Linked DNA regions of Homo sapiens: region 1 is linked to region 2. The links come from fine-mapping of genetic effects on gene expression. A gene starts in region 2. The other region holds a variant in brackets. All regions are shown on one strand. Distances are from middle to middle.

Region 1 (5,377 bases), 170 kb after region 2:
AAGAGAGTATTGCTAGTGAACCTTGAATGTAATTTGATGTCCAAGAGGACAGTGAAGAGAGCCGGGAAACAGAGAGGAACTGGGATTTAATGAATGTCTACTACAGCCAGTCATAATACTAGCATTTCATCTACCTCTTCTCATTTGTTACACCTCTGTGAGTGAGGTGTTGGTATCTCACTTTAGGGATGAAGAAAGTGAAGTTCAGAGATGTTACATGAATCACGCTTGGTCACACAGATGGTAAATGCCAGATTCGAACCCTGATTTGTCTAACTACAAGCCCTTCCTCATTCTGTCACTTTCAGAGTGACTCACTTTACTAAGAGGGAGCCTTTATTTCAAGTTAAATAAACGTTTTCCTTTCTGCAGTTATTAGTGGATTGTCTTAGAGTTAGTCTTCCTTATTGTGCCAGGAGATGCATTTCTTCCTCTCATTAAACAAATAAATAAAGCTGGCAGTGCCAGAAATTTGATTTGCCCTTATTGTGTAGGAATAAAAAGACCCATGTGTACTGAACAAGCAGAACCTGTTTTTAGTGTTTAACTAGCCAACTCCTGTCTGGGTGTTCTTTTAAAAAGTAATTATACCATTTATGATACACCCATTTAAGTCCCAACAGCTATTCCCTCTTGGACCTCATGTTGTGGGGCTGCATTTGCTTCTGTTATTATTATTTGAGTAAAAGAACGTGTGTATGGGTCGCCTTTATATGCCTGCCTGTGAAATTGGTTGAACAAACACTGTGTATTAAGTCAGAATATAGAAATGTCCTGATTCTCTTTTGCAGGACTGTGTTCGATTGAAGATTTTGCTTCCTATACTTTCTATGCTTTTGTAGCTTTGTTTTGCCTTTACTTGAGGGCTGATTCTACCTGGCCACAATAAAGCTGTTCACACTGTATGTTGTAGCTTAACTTTACAATCTTAGGCACTTGGAGGCAGTGGTGTTTACATAACTTGTCTTTATGTTTGTTTGTTTTTTGTTTTTATATTTTCCTCACTTACGTTCATTTTCTCCCCCATTTACAGATGCTGGCCCGCGAGAGACATTGATGCATTTTGCTGTGCGGCTGGGACTGCTGAGGTTGACGTGGTTCCTGTTGCAGAAGCCAGGTGGCCGCGGAGCTCTCAGTATCCACAACCAGGAAGGGGCGACGCCTGTGAGCTTGGCCTTGGAGCGAGGCTATCACAAGCTGCACCAGCTTCTAACCGAGTAAGTGCTCCTTCTGCCTTATTTCCCTCCTCTCATCCCCAGCCCCACCCCCGATTCATAGGAGTACCACCCACTTGGCATCTCATTGTGTGTTTGCCGCAAATTAAAACCTCAGCTCTGTATCTTGCCTTCTGCTGGAGGTTTGTAAGCTTGCTCCTGCTAACCACTTCATTGTCTGAGAGAGAAACGTAAGTCGTGTTAACCATTTTCTCTCTCGTCTGCCTGCCTGCCTTCTTCAATTCTTATCTCTTATATTTTACTATTTTACTCAAAAGTCAGAATGAGCCTTGTCTGTGGAGGTAGCATAACATTACCAATGTATACAGTTTATCCTGGTTTAGTACAAGAGGAAACAGATTTCCTATATCATATATTTTTTTCTGGTATGTCTTTAAGACTTGAAAGAGTTAATTAGAAACCAGTACTTCCATATTATAATTGCATACAGAAAATATTGTAAACAATTAAGTTTTGGATTGAATGTAATTTCTGTGAATAAAATTTGAGAGCAGTGGTTTCTTCATATGAACAGCAATAAAAAGCAACTGAATTGTCCTGGAAATGTGCAGTAGGAAATCCTGTCTGTTTTTGGGCTCAATTATTATATGTCCTGACTCTTTAAAGAGTTCTCTAGAGGAAGGTTGTTAGTCAAAACATTTGAAGAGCGCTCTTTTATTCTTGTATAAATAAAGAAATAAACACACTAGAGCAGCCAAAAGTTTTTATTGGAATGTTTATATAAAGAAGTTTCAAGAATAGTTTCTGTTGTTTAATACATTTTTATTAGTTTTGTGGTTATCATCATTATCTTTTCCACCACATTATCTGAACAAGTATAAACCCATTGGATCTATGTTCTTTAGCAATTGAGGGACCTGTGCAAATTGAGTCAGTATTAGCAAATTCTCAGATATTTTGCTCATGCCAGATTTAATTTAGTTGTGCTTTATGTTTTACCATTTTTAACTGTGTATATAGTCTGGAAGGACCAAAAAGAGACCTCAGAATGTAGTGCTACTTACGGTTATGTAAACAGCTTTTTCTTGATTCACTTGCCAGGCTTATACCTTTCCCCATCACGCTAGACAGACAGTTCTTTGCAGAAAGCTTTCTGATGGGTGCTACAGATACAGTGGTGGTAGGAGGGGCACTTATCTCAAATGAGCTTTGGATACCTGAGCTCTCCTAAGACAGTATTCCAGGGAGTGATACATTCTACTCCTTCACACTTCCCATCTGGCCAATGATTGGATTCATTCTACGGTTAGCCTCATGGCCTCAGGAAGAGAGGCCTTGTTTCAGAAGTTGAAACAGTTAACTCTGCATAACTATTGTGAAGTTCAAATGCATTTCCTCTAAATTTGATTTTTGCTGGGAAGCAGAGTTGGTTAAGGACTGCCATCCAAATGGGGAAATAAAGTGATTACAACAGCTTCATTATATCCTT[G/C]GAGGGGATGTCACAAGACTGTTATTGCAGCACAGCTTTAAGGAAACTAGAGTGTGTTTGTTCTTTGACTTTTTTTTGCTTACTTTAAAAGTACTACTTCTGTTACATGTGGGAAAGCCACTTACCTCCTTTTGAAGGGAGATTGGTAAGGGAAAACCAACCTGAGAAATCACCAATAGAGGACCCTGATAGGAGAGGATGAGCACCTTGCTGCAGATCTAGCTCTTAACTTGAATTCTGGGATGTTACTGTTGTGAAGCTTAGAAAAAGTTCTGAGTCATAATTAGCGATTAAAAAATGGAAAGGGGGCGATTGTCCCAAATCACTCAGTGTGAGAGTGATTCTAGTAGAATTTGGTAGAATTTCAGTTGTTAAAGAATCAAGAATGATCATTTTGTTATTGGTTTTCTTTTCTCCTTTCCTTCCCCTTTCTTTTCCTATATACATAACGTAAAAATGGTTAAAATAGTAAATTTTAGGGACAGCATTCAGTAGCATTCAGTACCATCACAACACTCACAGAGTTACGTAACCATCACCACTATTATTTCCAGAACTTTGTCATCACCCAAACTGAACTTCCTTTTCTCCAGCCCCTGATAACCTCTGTTCTCCTTTCTGTCTCTAAGAATTTGCCCATTCTAGGTACCTCATATAAGTGAAATCATGCAACATTTGTCTTTCTGTGTCTGTCTTTTACATAGCTAATGTCCTCAAGGTTCACCCATGTTGTAACGTGTCAGAAAAACAATACGTACTTCAAAATTGCTAAAAAAGAATGTATTTCTCACCACAAAAAAATAAGTAGCTGAGATGATGGATATGTTACTTAGGTTGATTTTATCTTTCTATGGTATATACATAGATTAAAACATCACACTGTACCCCATAAATAAATTTATATAATTGTTGTTACCAAACACACACACACACACACACACACACACACACACACACAGCCAAAAGTGTAAACAACCTAGATGTCCATCACAGATAAATGGACAATGTGGTATATTCATATAACGGAATACTACAGCCTTAAAAAGAAAAGATCATCTTTAACAGATGAAACTGAGATCCAGAGAGACAAAGTGGTTGGATGAAGATAACAAGGTGGTATGACCAGAAATAGAAGCCAAAAGCTGTCCAGAGCTCTTTCCTTCCACTCCTGGGATTCTTAAAAAGTGGCCCAAGAATAGACTTCATGGGGTCTGTATCTCTTGAAATTATAAAGGTTTATGCACATGTTTTTCTGAATAAAGCATTTGTTGGTGAGATTCACGAAGGGGTTTGTAGAAAGTTAAGAATCGCCACAATGTATGATGCTATCTTTCTTTTTTTTTTTTTTTTCTTTTCTTTGAGATGGAGTCTTGCTCTGTAGCCCAGGCTGGAGTGCAGTGGCACGATCTTGTCTCACTGCAGCCTCTGCCTCCCAGGCTCAAGCAATTCTTCTGCCTCAGCCTCCTGAGTAGCTGGGATTACAGGCATGCGCCACCATGTCCGGCTAATTTTTGTATTTTTAGTAGAGACGGGGTTTCACCATGTTGGTCAGGCTGGTCTCGAACTTCTGACCTCGTGATCCACCCACCTCGGCCTCCCAAAGTGCTGGGATTACAGGCGTGAGCCACCGCGCCCAGCCATGATGCTATCTTTCTAATAGTTTGGGTATCTTCTTCCCCACCCTGCTTTTTAAAAATGAAATTGTCCACATATAAGCCGGCCTCTTTTATTGCCTCTTTTCAGTTAGTATGAAATTGAAGTATGGCTATGTATATTTTACATTTATTGAATAACTAGTTGCATTCTACACTTTACTGAAAAGTCAAGCTTATTTAACCCCATTTATAGCCCTTCCCAAGTACATTTGTTGTTTTAATTCCTTGGTGCTTTACCTTGTTTTTTGCTTTTTAATTTTTAAGTGGGGTGTGGGGAGCCTTGTGCTGGTTAGGGCCCAAGTTCTTTTTGTGTTTCTTTGTTCAAGGCTTATTTTGATTGCCAGTCTATTTTGATAAAGCAAGTCTTACTTCTGCGAAAATTATGATTAGCCATTCTTGGACATATAAGGATTCTCTAAGACCTATCCCTTTAGAAAACACTTGAACTTTATTTTAAATCCTACCAGATAGTAATAACTACTCAGGACATTTTTTTTACAGTTTCCCTTTTTTGTAACCCATGATTGTTAACTTTCACTTTGTTCAGTGTTAGGGAAGGCAGAGCTTTTGTTGACTTGCTGTTTCACTTTAGCTTATATTTAGATCTTACATTATGAATATGAATGCATTTGTGATCTGAAAATTCATCTTAAATACATTGTATTTAAGTTTCACTCTAAGTAAATGAAAGAATTCATGTAGGGAGCATAACTCAGTGATTGACATATATGTTATCTCTTATTTCCCTTTCTTTAATTTTCTGTCTTGCCTGAGAAATCTTAGCCCCAGAAGAGTACCCAAAACATGTAGGCCTACTTTTCCTTTAGTTGGACAATCATCTCCTCTGATTTGAAGACCCCACCCATGGTCACCTAACTAGTTAGTAATGGAGAGAATAGGTAAAGACCCCAGTTTGCAGGCTCTTGGTGTCATGAATGCTAGGAAGTGACAATATCAGATGAGCGTGGCATTGTAGTTATCTAAGAAGAAAATATTAGAGCCAGATGTTATTGGATCTGGCTGATCTCTTACTCACACATCTCAAAGTAGAAATCTTG
Region 2 (5,377 bases):
GGCATGGTGGTTCATGCCTGTAATCCCAGCACTTTGGGAGGCCGAGGCGGGCAGATCGCCTAAGGTCAGGAGTTCAAGGCCAGCCTGGCCAATATGGTGACACTCTGTCTCTACCAAAAATACAAAAACTAGCTGGGTGTGGTGGTGTGAACCTGTAATCCTAGCTACTTGGGGGGCTGAGGCAGGATAATCGCTTGAACCGGGGAGGCGGAGGTTTCAGTGAGCCGAGATCATGACACTGCATTCCAGCCTGGACAATAGAGTGAGACTCTGTCTTAAAAAAAAAAAAAAAAAAAAAAGTCGGGTTTCAAAATAGCTACGTCAGTAGCACCTGGGAGCTTTTTAGAAATGCGGAATCCCAGATGCCACCCCAGACTTACTGAATCAGAATCCACATTTAACAAACACTCCCAGGTGATTTGTAAGCACAGTAAATTCAAGAAGTGCTAGACTCTTAACTTTTCCTGCAGCCCACTGGAAAGGTGTAAATCCTGCTGAGGCGGGGAGCAGGGAACGGTGTTGTCAGTGTCCGTAGAAAGATGACATGGTAACATTTACTGCTGCCTCTGAAACAAACAAGCTAGGTTCTAAGGGGGAAGTTCACTGGGTTATCAAATGTTAGGGTCCAAGTGATTTTCTTGGTTAGCACTCTTGCTTCACAGAAGACTCAGGTTCTTTGAGAAGTGACCGGCTCATGATAGGCTGCTTCTCTCTCTGTGCCAGCCTTTTTTTTTTTTTTTTTGAGATAGGGTCTGGCTCTGTCACCCAGGCTGGGGTACAGTGGCATGATTTGGCTCACTGCAACCTCTGCCTCCTGGGCTCAAGCAATCCTTCCACCTGAGCCTCCCAAGTAGCTAAGATTTGGGCTACCATGCTTGGCTAATTTTTGTATTTGTTAGTACAGATGGCGTTTCAATTGATGCCCAGGCTGGTCTCGAACTCCTGGGCTCGAGCAATCTGCCCTCCTCAGCCTCCCAAAGTGCTGGGATTACAGGTGTGAGCCACCGCGCCAGGCCTTGTGCCAGTTTTTAAAAATCAACAAGGACAGATTAGAGAACAGTGGAAGAGGGTGAGCAGCATGATGAAGTGATACAGAAATAATTTCACATGAAGAACTGGGCATGTTTGGCCTTTCTTTTCTTTTCTTTTTTTTTTTTTAAAGCCATTCGGTGAGGGTTACTTAAGAAAATAGGGCCGGGTGCGGTGGCTCATGCCTGTAATCCCGGCAATTTGGGAGGCCGAGGTGGGTGGAGCACCTGAGGTCAGGAGTTTGAGACCAGCCTGGCCAACATGGTGAAACACTGTCTCTACTAAAAATAAAAAAATTAGCCGGGTGTGGTGGTGGGTACCTGTAATCCCAGCTACTTGGGAGGCTGAGGCAGGAGAATCGCTTGAACCCTGGAGGTGGAGGTTACAGTGAGCTGAGATTGCACCATTGCACTCCAGCCTGGGCAACAAGAGTGAAACTCTGCCTCAAAAAAAAAAAAAAAAAAAAAAAGAAAAAAGAAAAAAAGAGAAAATATATGTGAGCACCAGAGCTCAACATTAGGAGCATTTCTGAGATTTGGAGCTATTCAACAATGGAAGTTCCTGGCACACACATCAGGTATTCACAATACCCTTTCTCAGGTGTTTGGTCACTGCTAGTGAGCCGCCTGGATCAGTGTTTCCCAAATGGCAGTCATTTGCATCTTTGCTTTTCTTTTGGGGGCGGGGGGGTAATATCCTGTACCAGATTTTTGAAAACTGACATTAAAAATACATGTTTAAAATGTGCAAAGTGCACTAAAGTGCACTGGATGTATTTTTTATTCATGTATATACTTTTGTTATCTATCACCCAGGTCAAAATACAGAACCAGCACCCCAGAGGGTTCCCTCCTCCTCCTTCCCAGCCAATAATCTTCTCCTCCTACCTAACCGCTGTTCTTACTTCAATCACTATCAACTAGTTTTACACGTTCTTCAACTGCATATAAATTGTCTCAGTTTTTTACTTAACACTTTTCTTGAAGTGCTTTCGTTTTTTGCCACTTTTTATTTGACCTAAGAAATAACATTAATGAAACAGTGGTTTGACGTGATAGGCATTTCCCTCCTAATGCGCACTAAAAACACTTAACTATTTGAAAAAAGAAGTTTCTTCGTGTACCAACTAATATATTCTCCGCCCTGTCTCCAGAAACCGCCCTTCCTCTGTGGGCCGGTGGTTACCGGCACCATTGGTACACGGACCACATTTTGTTTCCCAAAGCAACCAGATGATTTTTGAGGTCCTTTGCAGCTCGAACACGGAATGACTTTGTGGTGATCGAGTAGCCAGAAGTTCACGGAATGCACTGTCACAATTGTGATTCCGCCATAGCGCCGTGCATCCATCCAACACTTGTTTAATACCTATATTTAATACCTAATACCTTAGACGGTCCTAGGCTGTGGACACAGAAGACTAAACCCCACTTCCTGAGTTGAAGTGGGGGAAATAGAGGAGTAAATCATTTCACGATGTGTGGTTAAGTGCTGCAGCTCAGGTAACCACCAGTACACAGAGGAAGGGCGGTTTCTGGAGACAGGGCGGAGAGGAGACCGTGGGTGGGCATTTCCCAGAGCAGCCTCTGCCAGCCACCCTACTTTGATCACTTTGCCGCCGAGCAGCAGCGGCGGTCAACCTCAGCCTCCCTTAGCAACCTGAGTGCCCCGTCCAGGAGCCTTACTATTGGTCTCATGCAGCGAGATGGGCAGTTCTGCCGTGCAATCCCAGCTCGCAGTTCTTGCTCCGCGTGTACTCACGGGAGGACTCGCAGGCGTTACCGCCTTCCCGCGTGCCCCGCCCACCCTCCCGAGCGTCTTTCGGCGCATGCGCGGACTGGAGCTGTGTGCAGGGCCAGCGCGGAGCCCGAGCAGCCGCGGTGAAGCGCCTGTGCTCTGCCGAGACTGCCGTGCCCATTGCTCGCCTCGGTCGCCGCCGCTTTAGCCGCCTCCGGGGGAGCGGCCGCCTATTGTCTTTCTCCGCGGCGAAGGTGAAGAGTTGTCCCAGCTCGGCCCGCGGGGGAGCCCCGGGAGCCGCACGGTGAGAGCGCAACTTAGTTGGCGGAGTTGGGGGAAGTTTTGTGATTTGTGGGTCGGGGCGCGGAGCGCGGCCAGTCCCCTGCGGTTGCTCGGTGGGGCGGGCCCCGGAGGAGGGGCGGGGGCTGCGGGGGTTTCGGGGGCGGGCTGGACAGACGGGTCGCCGGGCGGCGCCGGGACCTCAGGTCTGCGGACCCCTCCTCCCTGCGCATCGCCCTTCTCCCGCATTGTCTGCTTGGGGCTCGGCGCGCCTCCCACTCCGCAGCCCAACTTAGAGGCCGTCGCCGCTTTCCGGGTGGGGGGCGCGCCCGGCCGCCGATGCTACCTCAGGCGCTCCGCCCCCAGCGAGGCCCCGAATCCTTGCCCCGGGTCCCCGGGTCGGCGCCGCCGGGGCGGGCTCACTCCTCCCCTGGGGCGGGCGGCCGCGGTGTGGAGTCCCCGCCGTGGAGTCCGCGCCGTGAACAAGTGCTGCGGGCGCGAGGGAGCGGCTCCCCGGGGTCGACGCGGACGGTAAACACGTCGGGCCGCGCCTGCCTGTCGGTGCCTCTCCGCGGCTTCTCGGGGGTGCGGCCCAGCTGACCCGCGCGGGTCGCAGGCGAGCGGCCCAGGAGACCCGTGCGGTCCCCACGCGCTCTGGGACCCGTGCAGCCAGCCGGCTCAGCTTGCAGCTATACTTTGATACCAAACAAAACTTTTTTTTTTTTTTTTGGTAAATACGGTTTACTGCTTTTTTTTTTTTTTTTTTTTTGCAAAGCCACGAAGTATGTGAAGTTGAAAAAAGGAAAAACCCTAAAACTTTTTAAAAAAAAATCAAGAAAGGGGGTAGATAGGTTTGTTTTGTTTTGGAAATAGTTCTTATAGCAGAGTGATACCGTCCCATTTAATTTTCTAGATCCCGGAATTCACAATGAAAATTGGATTGAGCGGTATTTTGGTGTTCATTCTTTGCTAATGACACTCCTTAATGAAGTTATTTGGAGAGTTTATTGCTTCAGTACAGTAAAAACCAGTGTGCCTTTTTTTTTGTTAGTAGTCCCCCCCACAACAAGTGTTTTATTTTTAGAAGAAGCATTTTCTTCAGTTTTTCTGAACTGTTGGATTGCGCAGATGAGGACAAACGGTGCAGTTCTTGAAAGGTCATTATTGGCAAGTTTGTGAAGAAGCTAAGATCAGTTGAGATAAATCATTGTTACTATTCTTGTATTCTGTCGTGGACTCTTGGGGATTTGCAGGCTGCATTAAGTACAAGTTTTGTCAAGTTTGGGTGCACATATTACACTTAATTTGGTTTGTGTGGCTTATTATATGAACATGATTCTGTTTCAGTTCCCCAGATGGAACTAGCTTAAATGTCTGTCATTCATAGTGGAGCAAAATGGCCAGAGTGTCATTTATTGTTAACTTCAGTTGTATTCCTTTACCATCTGCTAAATGAAAAAGAAAAATTTGAGAAATACTGTGTGTGTCAGTTTGCTCAGAGTGATTTCTCGTGCTAAGTGAGTCCTGTGGAGAAGCGTTCCTGGGCTTTTCTGGTTTGGTGGGCCTTGTGTTATAAAACCAATTTTCTTCACCTGATGAAGCTAAAGACAAATTTTCTTCAGGTACAGCCATTGCACTTTTAAATTACAGAGCCGCTTTTAGGATTCACAGTACTCGCTCCATGGCTTCCCTTCCTGGTTGTGTGGTTTTGTGTGTGTGATTGTGGGGAAGGAGGTTGACAGAGGTTGGAAGGGATTGTCAGGGAGGGACATAATGTAAGCAAGTACTACTTACAACATGACGTGACGAGTGCACTAGTTGCTTTCCTTCTCTGGGCGGTGATGGCATGTTATACTGTAGGTACTATTGTTTTAGGATTTCTCACACTTCTTTTGCCTTGACTAAATGGTAACTGCACACATACTATACTATAAATGGACTCCTCCTCTAGTCCTTTAACTCCTTGAGGGCTGTGATAGACCTTATTTAGCTTTTTACCCTCTTTGCCGGTAGTCTTAACATAGTGCAGGCACGGTACGTGTTTGAATTGGGTAAATTATTTTTACTGCCTAGTGGTAGCTAGCGTACACAGGAGAGAGCCACTAACTGGGGACCTGTCCAGAATGACAGTTCACTTGCAGATCTGTGATGACATTTACTTTAAAAGGATTTCTAACCTTTTTTTAATCTGTCAATTATTTTTTGAAAAGAAGTGGGTTTAACTAGCGCTCTAAGGATTTCAACAAGAGGTTCCAATTTAGAAATCAGCCCCCCCCTTTTTGTGAAATTATTATTGTTTTTTTTTAGAGTCGGAATCTTCACTGTTGCCCAG

Evidence for each region. PIP is the estimated chance that this variant, and not a neighbour inherited with it, causes the effect.
Region 1: its variant is fine-mapped to the expression of AKAP13 in whole blood (TOPMed, PIP 0.94).

The regions. Positions count from the first base shown.
Region 1 is chr15:85,542,739-85,548,115 of GRCh38, forward strand. It overlaps AKAP13 (A-kinase anchoring protein 13), which reads left to right. Exons shown (of 37, transcript NM_007200.5): 5 at 1,034-1,217. Among named protein-coding and RNA genes, the nearest start is that of AKAP13, 160 kb to the left of the region's middle. The variant G/C (reference allele first, on the strand shown) is at 2,665.
Region 2 is chr15:85,377,729-85,383,105 of GRCh38, forward strand. It overlaps AKAP13 (A-kinase anchoring protein 13), which reads left to right and starts at 2,875. Exons shown (of 37, transcript NM_007200.5): 1 at 2,875-3,070. It overlaps MIR7706 (microRNA 7706), which reads left to right and starts at 2,868; the gene lies at 2,868-2,934. RefSeq lists silencers at 2,726-2,805, 3,186-3,755, 3,412-3,579.